Linked DNA regions of Homo sapiens: region 1 is linked to region 2. Evidence: fine-mapped expression QTL. Tissue or cell type: whole blood. Region 2 holds a variant in brackets; the other region holds the start of a gene. All regions are shown on one strand. Distances are between the middles of the regions.

Region 1 (4,164 bases), 30 kb after region 2:
ATTGTCAATTGAATTTCAGGCATCTGAGATTTCAGACATCAGGCAACGCCTTTTCTTTGAAAATTTTAAAATCTGAAAATGAAAAAAATAAGACTTCAAGAGTATTCAAACTTGAACACAGAAACTTTAACAAGTCAAAAGTTAAACAGAAATACTTAGATACACATTTCAAAAATAATTTTGGCCAACTTAAAAAATATAACAGGAGAAAATAAAGAGCAATCTCACAGATCTTAGGAAATCCTCGGTCACTAGCTATGTCTTCAGAAAGGCACCTTTAAAAAACTGAACTCAGTGCACTTTACTTCTTCAATCCCTGAAAAACAGATACCTCATAGTATCATTTTATGAAATTATTTTCAAAATGTTTCATTTGTTTAATGACTCAACTGCAAATAAGATGTTAAATAATTCTGCTTTTCTAACACTTATTCCACACACAATAATTTAATCCCACTTTTCAAAGTACTTTTTGTTAAGTCCAATTCTTTCTCTGGAATCCTGATACTTACATAAAGTTTAGTGTACCGGAGAGCAGCAAAATCATGATCAAAAGAACCATTTGCCTACAACATGTTCCTTTCCAACACCCCTAAGTGATATTAGCCTTACAAAATTACCCTCCCTTGACAGAAGAATGGCTTGAGGCAGTCTGTTCTCTCTGGAAGTTCATTAGTACCAGCTACTGGTAATAATCAAGCCTTCCAAGGCAATGGGGAGTGAAGTGTTAAGTCAAACGTGTTTCTCACACATAGATTCCTCTGTTAAACACAATAATGAAACTTTCTGCCTATTTACGTATCTCAATGATGAAGAAAACCTTAGCTAGACCGAACATTATTTTTGGTGCTTCCAGATACATATGTCCATCCTCAATCCACTGCCCTGCCATGAAGTTTTCTACACATCCCTTTCCTGATTTCTGAAACATCACTTACACGTGTTTCTACAGTTGCTTTGAATGAAAGCAAAAGGGAAGACAGTAAAGGAGAGCCTTTTTACCCAGGGACAAGGCTATGCCCAGCAATTACAGTGAGTGCACTTCCTTTTGTTCATTCTGCACCAGGATTAGCAGTCAAATCGCTTTGTGGTTCTTAATTAAGGCTGAGCAGCTATAAAGAACAATAACTTCAAAAGTGAATTTATGTTTTAATTACACATAGGCAATATAGGCAGCGAAGGCATTTGCTCCCCTCAAATTCCCCCTTAACTCAACAGAGCAATCACCCTCAGCCCTGGAAGGACATCTAAACATTTTAAAGGCGAAAGTGTTTAAGGCGGACCTTCTTGTTTCCGATCCAAGAATGCGCTGTGATGACCTTGCTAGCAAAGAGAAAAGTGGGGATGGGAGTTTCTGATTAACGCTTCAGAAAAAAAAGGGGGAAATCACAATCCTAACAGCCGAAATGCAGAATAATCAGAGAGCCAGAATCCCGTTAAGTCAGAAAGAACAGGAAAGCAGAGAGACTCGTGCGGAACATCCTGGCCCTCACGGGATGTTAAAAGCAGTATCTATTTAAGAAGTTGGAGAAAGGAGTTTCTGTGTGGCCCATGCCGGGGAACAGAGAGCAAACACGCGGCCGTCTGCGCCCGTGAGGCCGGCCACTGGGACGGAGCCGGTCCGGGAGCTGGGCTGCTGGCGAGCAGTAGCAGGGGACGGGGCTGTCACCGCTTACCCAGGTGCAGCGTGAGGTTGATGGAGCTGGGGTACTGCACCCCGGCCAGCATGGTCTGGCTTTGCCACCAGGTGGTGTCGGCCTGGTTGTTGTAGTCGGTCAGGAAGGCTGCCCCGTGCTGCAGGTGGGGCTGCCCGGCGTCGCACAGGTGACAGGACTTGGTGACCCCGGTCACCCCGGTCTGCACACAGTATTCCTCGGGCGGAGTCCCACACGTGTTGGTGGCCACCACAGTCACGTTGAAGGCGGCGTTGACGAACTCGGGCATGCAGCGCTGCGGCCGCCCGCCCTCGTCCGTGCACTCGTCCATGGCTGCCTGGGCACAGCCCGCCGCGGCGGCCGCCGCCAGCACGGCCAGCACGGGCCAGAGCCGCCCCCGGGGCCGCAGGGCCGGCGCGGCCCGATGGCTCCCTCTCATCCCGCCGCCCGCACGCTGGGTCACGGCGAAGGCAAGGGCACCGGCGCGTTCCTCTCGCCTAGCGGCGTCCCCCGGAGGCCGCTTCGCTGCTTGAGCCTGGGGGCCCAGGGGCCTGACTCCGGCGCGGGCGGTGGCGGCGGCTCGCGCCGGAGAGACTGACGGGTGGGCGCCCCTAGCGAGGACCGCGCTGCTCGCCGACCACTGCCCCCGCGCGCCGCCTCCGCGCTTCCCTCACCTACCCCGGGAGCAGCCTGCACTCCGCGCCGACCCCCGACTTCCGAGCGCGTGCCCGAGTGCGCGCCCCCGGGGAGGAAGGAGCAGGGGGTGGGGTCGGCAGGGTGGGGTGGGGTCTGGGCGAGGAGAAAGCCCAACCCTGTCTCCTCTCAGCAACTCCCGCGGCCCCTGGGGCAACTCCCCGGCCCACCGCGCCCCATGGACTGCGCGTCCGCCCCGGCGACTCCAGGAGGCGGCGGGGGCGGGAGCAGCGGCGTCTCGCGCTCGGGCCCGCGGCGCGCGACCCGGGGGGAGGGGCGCGCGAGGTGGGCGGGGAGCCGGGGGAGGGGGTTGGGGGAGGGGAGGGGAGAGGAGGGGAGAGGAGGGGAGGGGAGAGGAGAGGAGGGGAGGGGAGGGCGGCTGGGTGGTGCATGCCGGGAGGGAAGGGCGGCCTCGCAGACCCGCTCCCCGCGCGGGAGTCGCTGGGGTCCTTGGGCTCCGCGGCCTGGGAGACTCCGGATTGCGGGAGGAGTCGGGGGAGGGCGCCTTAGAGGGGCGATGCCGGGTCAGGAGGTCGCTCGGGGTCGTCCCTGGGGCCTCGCGCCAATTTGGGCTGCGGCAAGAGGGTCCCCGCCCGGCCAGGTGTGGGTCCGAACCGGGAGCGCCCGCTGCTGCCCGGGGCCCCGCTCCAGCCCCTCCCGAACAGAGGTCCCGGGGCGTTCATGGGGCCGACACGGTCCCTGGAGAATCAGAAGGGCCTGGTCGCAGCAGCCAGATGAGTTTCGTGAAGCGATTTCCTGCCGCTGATTTAAAGTGTAACCAGTCGTTTTACCGGGGCAAGGAAGGAAGTGAAAAGGCTGGGAATGGAATGAATTTTTCCCTTGGGTACGCACGACCCACTGCGAAATTCTTCCACTGTGTTGTTTGTGTTCCTCGGCTTGCCTTTAAAAGACTCGAAATTATGTGGATTCTGACATCCTCCTTTTCGGGCCTGCTGAGTCACGGAATATTCTCAGTGCCAGAATGACTCAGTTCACAGAACCTGAGCCAGAAGATCATGAGTTTTAGTCCCGGAGCAGAACCTGGGCGCTTACCCAGTGCTGGATACGGCAAGCAGAGACCAGGGCAGGGAGGCAGCAGCTTGAAACCCTTGGCGTCCCCAAGCAGAGAGGATGCACATAGTGAATGACACGGATTTGTTTTGTTCTAGCTTTTCAGGAATTTAATGATAAAGTGCGGATAATAAGTACACCGCAAAAACAAAACAAAAAAACACATGCATAATTTCGGACCCAGTTGTCCCATTAAGATAGGCGTAATGGGAATCTGAAACAAGGAAATAAGTATATGTTAGGTGACTCTGGATAGTTAGGGTTAGTTAGACGCAGACTGCTGATTAGGAAAACCTTAAGGATAATGTTCTGGTAGGATGAAGAAGGGAGGGGAATCTAGGGTCTTGTTACACGGCTGAGCTTACTTAGCAAGTTATGTTCATCACTGTTCCGTTTATTTGATGAGATGGGTGGAGATTATGCATGGCTAAAGGTGCCTCATTCTTGGCACCTTCTCTTTGGGAGAATTAAGTTGTGGGGACTAATAATTTTTTAATCCTTTCATACATGAGTTGAAGCGAAATAAATACGTTCATTTACACCTAGAGGGGATTATATGCTCTCTCAGTCCTTCGTTGTACTTGAGGACAAACGTGGGCATATAGGACAAAAATAAGGATGTTAGTTGTGAATAAAGCTACAGATTTGTAATAAACTTGTTTATATTTTAATAAACATATTAGTGAATTTGCATTATTATACATTTTTAGTACTTTGTTATATAGTGGCCAAAGCGTGGGTCTCT
Region 2 (4,000 bases):
GAAAACTGAGGCTTCAAGAGGCTAAATTAGTCACCCTAAGCAGGTATCAAGTTCATAGCTGAGTCAATCCCTAGTAAGTGGTTATAAACATCTATCGCCACATTTCACACACTAGGAAGAGAAATGATAAAGAAAGGATGTGTCCGGGCGCGGTGGCTCATACCTGTAATCCCAGCACTTCCGGAGGCCAAGGCAGGTGGATCACCTGAGGTCAGGAGTTCGAGACCAGCCTGGCCAACATGGTGAAACCCCGTCTCTGCTAAAAATACAAAAAATTAGCCAGGCGCGGTGGCAGGCACCTGTAATCCCAGCTACTCGGGAGGCTGAGGCAGGAGAATCGCTTGAACCCGGGAGGTGGAGGTTGCAGTGAGCCGAGATTGCGTCACTGCACTCCAGCCTAGGCAACAAGAGCGAAACTCCATCTCAAAAAAAAAAAAAAAAAGATGCACAAAGTTCTCACTAATCAAAGGAATAAGATGGCAGAAGAAAAGGCAACACAATAGAGCACCAAGAACAAGGAATCCTGATACCATGAGGAACCACTGGCTTCCTGGCCTGCTCCTCTTCAGTAGAAGAAGGGGTCAAGTGGGAAAAGCCCCTAAGGCTCTAAGGTGGCTGTGGTCCTAGAAGTCTATGAATAATCAATGGCTTCCCTCTTAATCAAAGCCAAATGCTCCACATTGAGTTTTGTAGTCTCCAAGCCAGGAACTGTGTCTAGCATAAAGTAGACACTAAAGAAATAAAATGTCCTGTTTTTCACCTAAGTAAACTTCAGGCTGAGAAGCGACCTTGCAATATACGGGGTGGGTTAATCTTGAAACCCTAAGCAATCAGTTCATTAAAATGTCAAAAGACCTTATTTACCCCTGCTTTCTTCTCAATATAACAGAATATCAGTATCCTAGGGGCTGTGTTATAGTATCGTTGCCATTAGAATACTGGAAATGACCCCAAAATTTAGGAAAGAGTAACAAGTGATACCAGTCCCCAGAAGTTAAGGTTACAGCCACGTTGTATAGAAGGCATTTTATTCTGAGGCAGAGCACAGTGTGATTCAGAGAACAGCCTCTATAACCAGACCCTAGAGTGCACAGCCTGAATCCTCACAAATAGCTGTGTGGCTTCTATGCCTCGGCTTCCTCCTCCGTAAACTGGGAGAGTGCTCCATCCGCACTGGGTTGTGCTGAGGATTAAATTAATCTAAGAAAAGCACTCAACACCATGCATAGCACATAGTAGTTAATAAATGTTAGCTATTAAGTGCTGATATTAATGATGCTAGCCTTACAAATGCACCTGAAAATCAATGACTTTAAAATGAAATTGGAGGTGGCAGAACTATTCAGAACAACAAATCAACCCACCTCAATAGGCAGTACTGCTTGTTGAGAGAACATTCTGCAAAACACTAGTGATGACACTTAGAAAATAAAAAGCAACATTTGAGCAAAGACTATAGATTTCACCTATCTTAACACTTTTTCCCAATAATAAAACCTATCTTTGGCCAGGAGCAGTGGCTCACACCTGTAATCCTAGCACTTTGGGAGGCCGAGGCGGGTGGATTGCCTGAGCTCAGGAGTTTGAGACCAGCCTGGGCAACATGGTAAAACCCCGTCTCTACTAAAATACAAAAAATTAGCCAGGCATGATGGTGTGCGCCTGTAATCCCAGCTACTCAAGAGGCTGAAGCACAAGAATCGTTTGAGCCCAGGAGATGGAGGTTGCAGTGAGCCAAGTTCGTGCCACTGCACTCCAGCCTGGGCAACAGAGCAAGACTCTGTCAAAAAAAAAAAACCAAAACTATCTTTCATTATGAATGTTTTGGATTATACAAGATCTTCACAAAATGTAAATGTTCTGATCAGATTCAGCCACCAATGCAGTCTAAGAACACCAATTCTCTCAGGAGAGCTGATGAGACTCAGAATCAGACCCTTACCATTCAAGCAACTATTATGTAACTCAATACTTTTCAAACAACCCATTAGTTTGAAATGAAAAAAAAAAA[C/AC]ACACACAAAAAACAGATCCAGATGAGCATTTTTAAAAAAGAATTAGAAGTGAATAGAAAATATCAGAGTATGATACAGGAAATAATGGTTAGACTTGCTTTGATAAACCTGTTTCAGCTATATGTACTGACTAGGTGGCAATACAAAATATATTTCTTATAATGGCTATAGTCGAAAATATCTGGGGAAAATATGATCTATTAAATATGGACACGGAAACCAAGTTTTTCAGCAAACTTTTCAAGTTTTTACATTTAACGCACTGGAAAACCCTAACAAGGGATTTGATTTATAGCATTTTTGTCCCATAAATTCAAACAAATAAATTCAGAATGACGGATCTCTCCCTCCTTGGACAGGAAACAGAAGTACAGAGAACTCCAACCAACACTAGGAAGAACAGAGTAATCGTTGTTTACATCTCTTCCCTCATTTACCTGTGTTTGGATAAGGAAACCCACATACCCTTAAGACAATAATTCTTTAAGTTCCCATTCTCTATGCACATCAATCCTAGAGAACATTAGTGTAGCTTTTTTCAGTAAGGGAGAAGAAAATGGAAATAAAGGGTTTTATTTAACCCAAATAATTTGATGAACACTCTTAAGCATTATGACTGAATAGAACCTTCTTTATTCTCAAGTTGCTTATAATTTACTAAGTGATATATTATTATAAGACACACACCCAAAAACCCAAGCAGGCTGTGCTTAAGGTGAGGGAGAGGAAGGGACATGAGCAGGAGGGATAAAGAGATGAAAATGTAAGAAAAAGAAAGTTAAGTGGCTGAGCATGGTGGCTCACACCTGTAATCCCAGCACTTTGGAAGGCTGAGGCAGGCGGATTACCTGAGGTCAGGAGTTAAGAGACCAGCCTGGCCAACATGGTGAAACTCCACCTCTACTAAAAATATAAAAATTAGCTGGGCGTGGTGGCGCATGCCTGTAATCCCAGCTACTCGGGAGGCTGAAGCATGAGAACTGCTTGAACCCAGGAGGCAGAGGTTGCATTGAGCCGAGATCATGCCACTGCACTCAGCCTGGGCGACAGAGTGAGACTGTGTCAAAAAAAAAAGAAAAGAAAGAACAAAAGAAAGATAGATAGATTAGCCTTTTAGTATGACCAGAATATCAATTAGCAGAGTTTGGGAGAGATGGGAAGAGGAATGGAAAGTAGGGTAATTGTGAAAGACAGAACAGAAAGAAAAAGGGATGAGAACACAAAAATGGATAGGTAGCTAGCCAACACATGCAACAAAACAGGGGAAGCAGAAGTGATGGTTACTCTTGGATACGCAGTGCAGAGCACCTTGAGTTGCAATCAGGGGGCTGTATGTTTTGACAGGTAACAAAAGGAATGATTTTTTTATCAGATGAACAAGCAGAAACCAATGAAAGGAATGATTTTTTATCAGAGAAATAAGCAGAAACCAAGAATATGAACATAGCTTGTTTTCCTACTGTTACATTTATGGCTCTCCTGGAGAACACCCTGAAGATGGATCCCTGCACCTGTCTTCCCTTCATTAGACACACAAGGATACTGACCAGAAGACAGTCTGCTCTCTCAGACACAAGATCCCTGTGATAACTTGGTTTGAAATTTCTGCCAGGCTTCAGTTAGAACTCAGAAATGCATAGCCTCGGGATATTTCTGGCTCCTCTCCCATGGCTCTCTAGTTAAAGCCAAAGAAAAGTGTAACTTCCTCTGGGTGTCTACAGGTTCTTCTAAGCAACCATTCCAGGAAGGAAAAAAGGCTGATTCCCCTTGGGAAGAGCAGCATAGGCACTCCAACTCAATAATCCCAGAGACTCAGTAAGTGTTCCAGTTATCTACTGCTGCACAACAAGCTACTCCAAAGCTCAGTGGCTTAAAACAACCACCATTTTTATCTCATGATTTTGAGAGTCAAGAATTTGGGAAGGGTTCAGCTGGATGATTCGTGTACTCCACACGGTATTGACTGAAGTCACACAGTGGTACTCAGC

The links. PIP is the estimated chance that this variant, and not a neighbour inherited with it, causes the effect.
Region 1: it holds the start of LAMC1, and the variant in region 2 is fine-mapped to the expression of LAMC1 in whole blood (INTERVAL, PIP 0.99).

What each region holds. Positions count from the first base shown.
Region 1 is chr1:183,021,647-183,025,810 of GRCh38, reverse strand. It overlaps LAMC1 (laminin subunit gamma 1), which reads right to left and starts at 2,391. Exons shown (of 28, transcript NM_002293.4): 1 at 1,677-2,391. The coding sequence starts at 2,094. RefSeq lists enhancers at 1,475-2,028, 2,584-3,138, 3,139-3,694 and silencers at 1,983-2,122, 2,143-2,212, 2,263-2,652, 2,683-3,072.
Region 2 is chr1:183,051,431-183,055,430 of GRCh38, reverse strand. The region is part of intron 1 of LAMC1 (laminin subunit gamma 1); the gene reads right to left. Among named protein-coding and RNA genes, the nearest start is that of LAMC1, 30 kb to the right of the region's middle. The variant C/AC (reference allele first, on the strand shown) is at 2,012.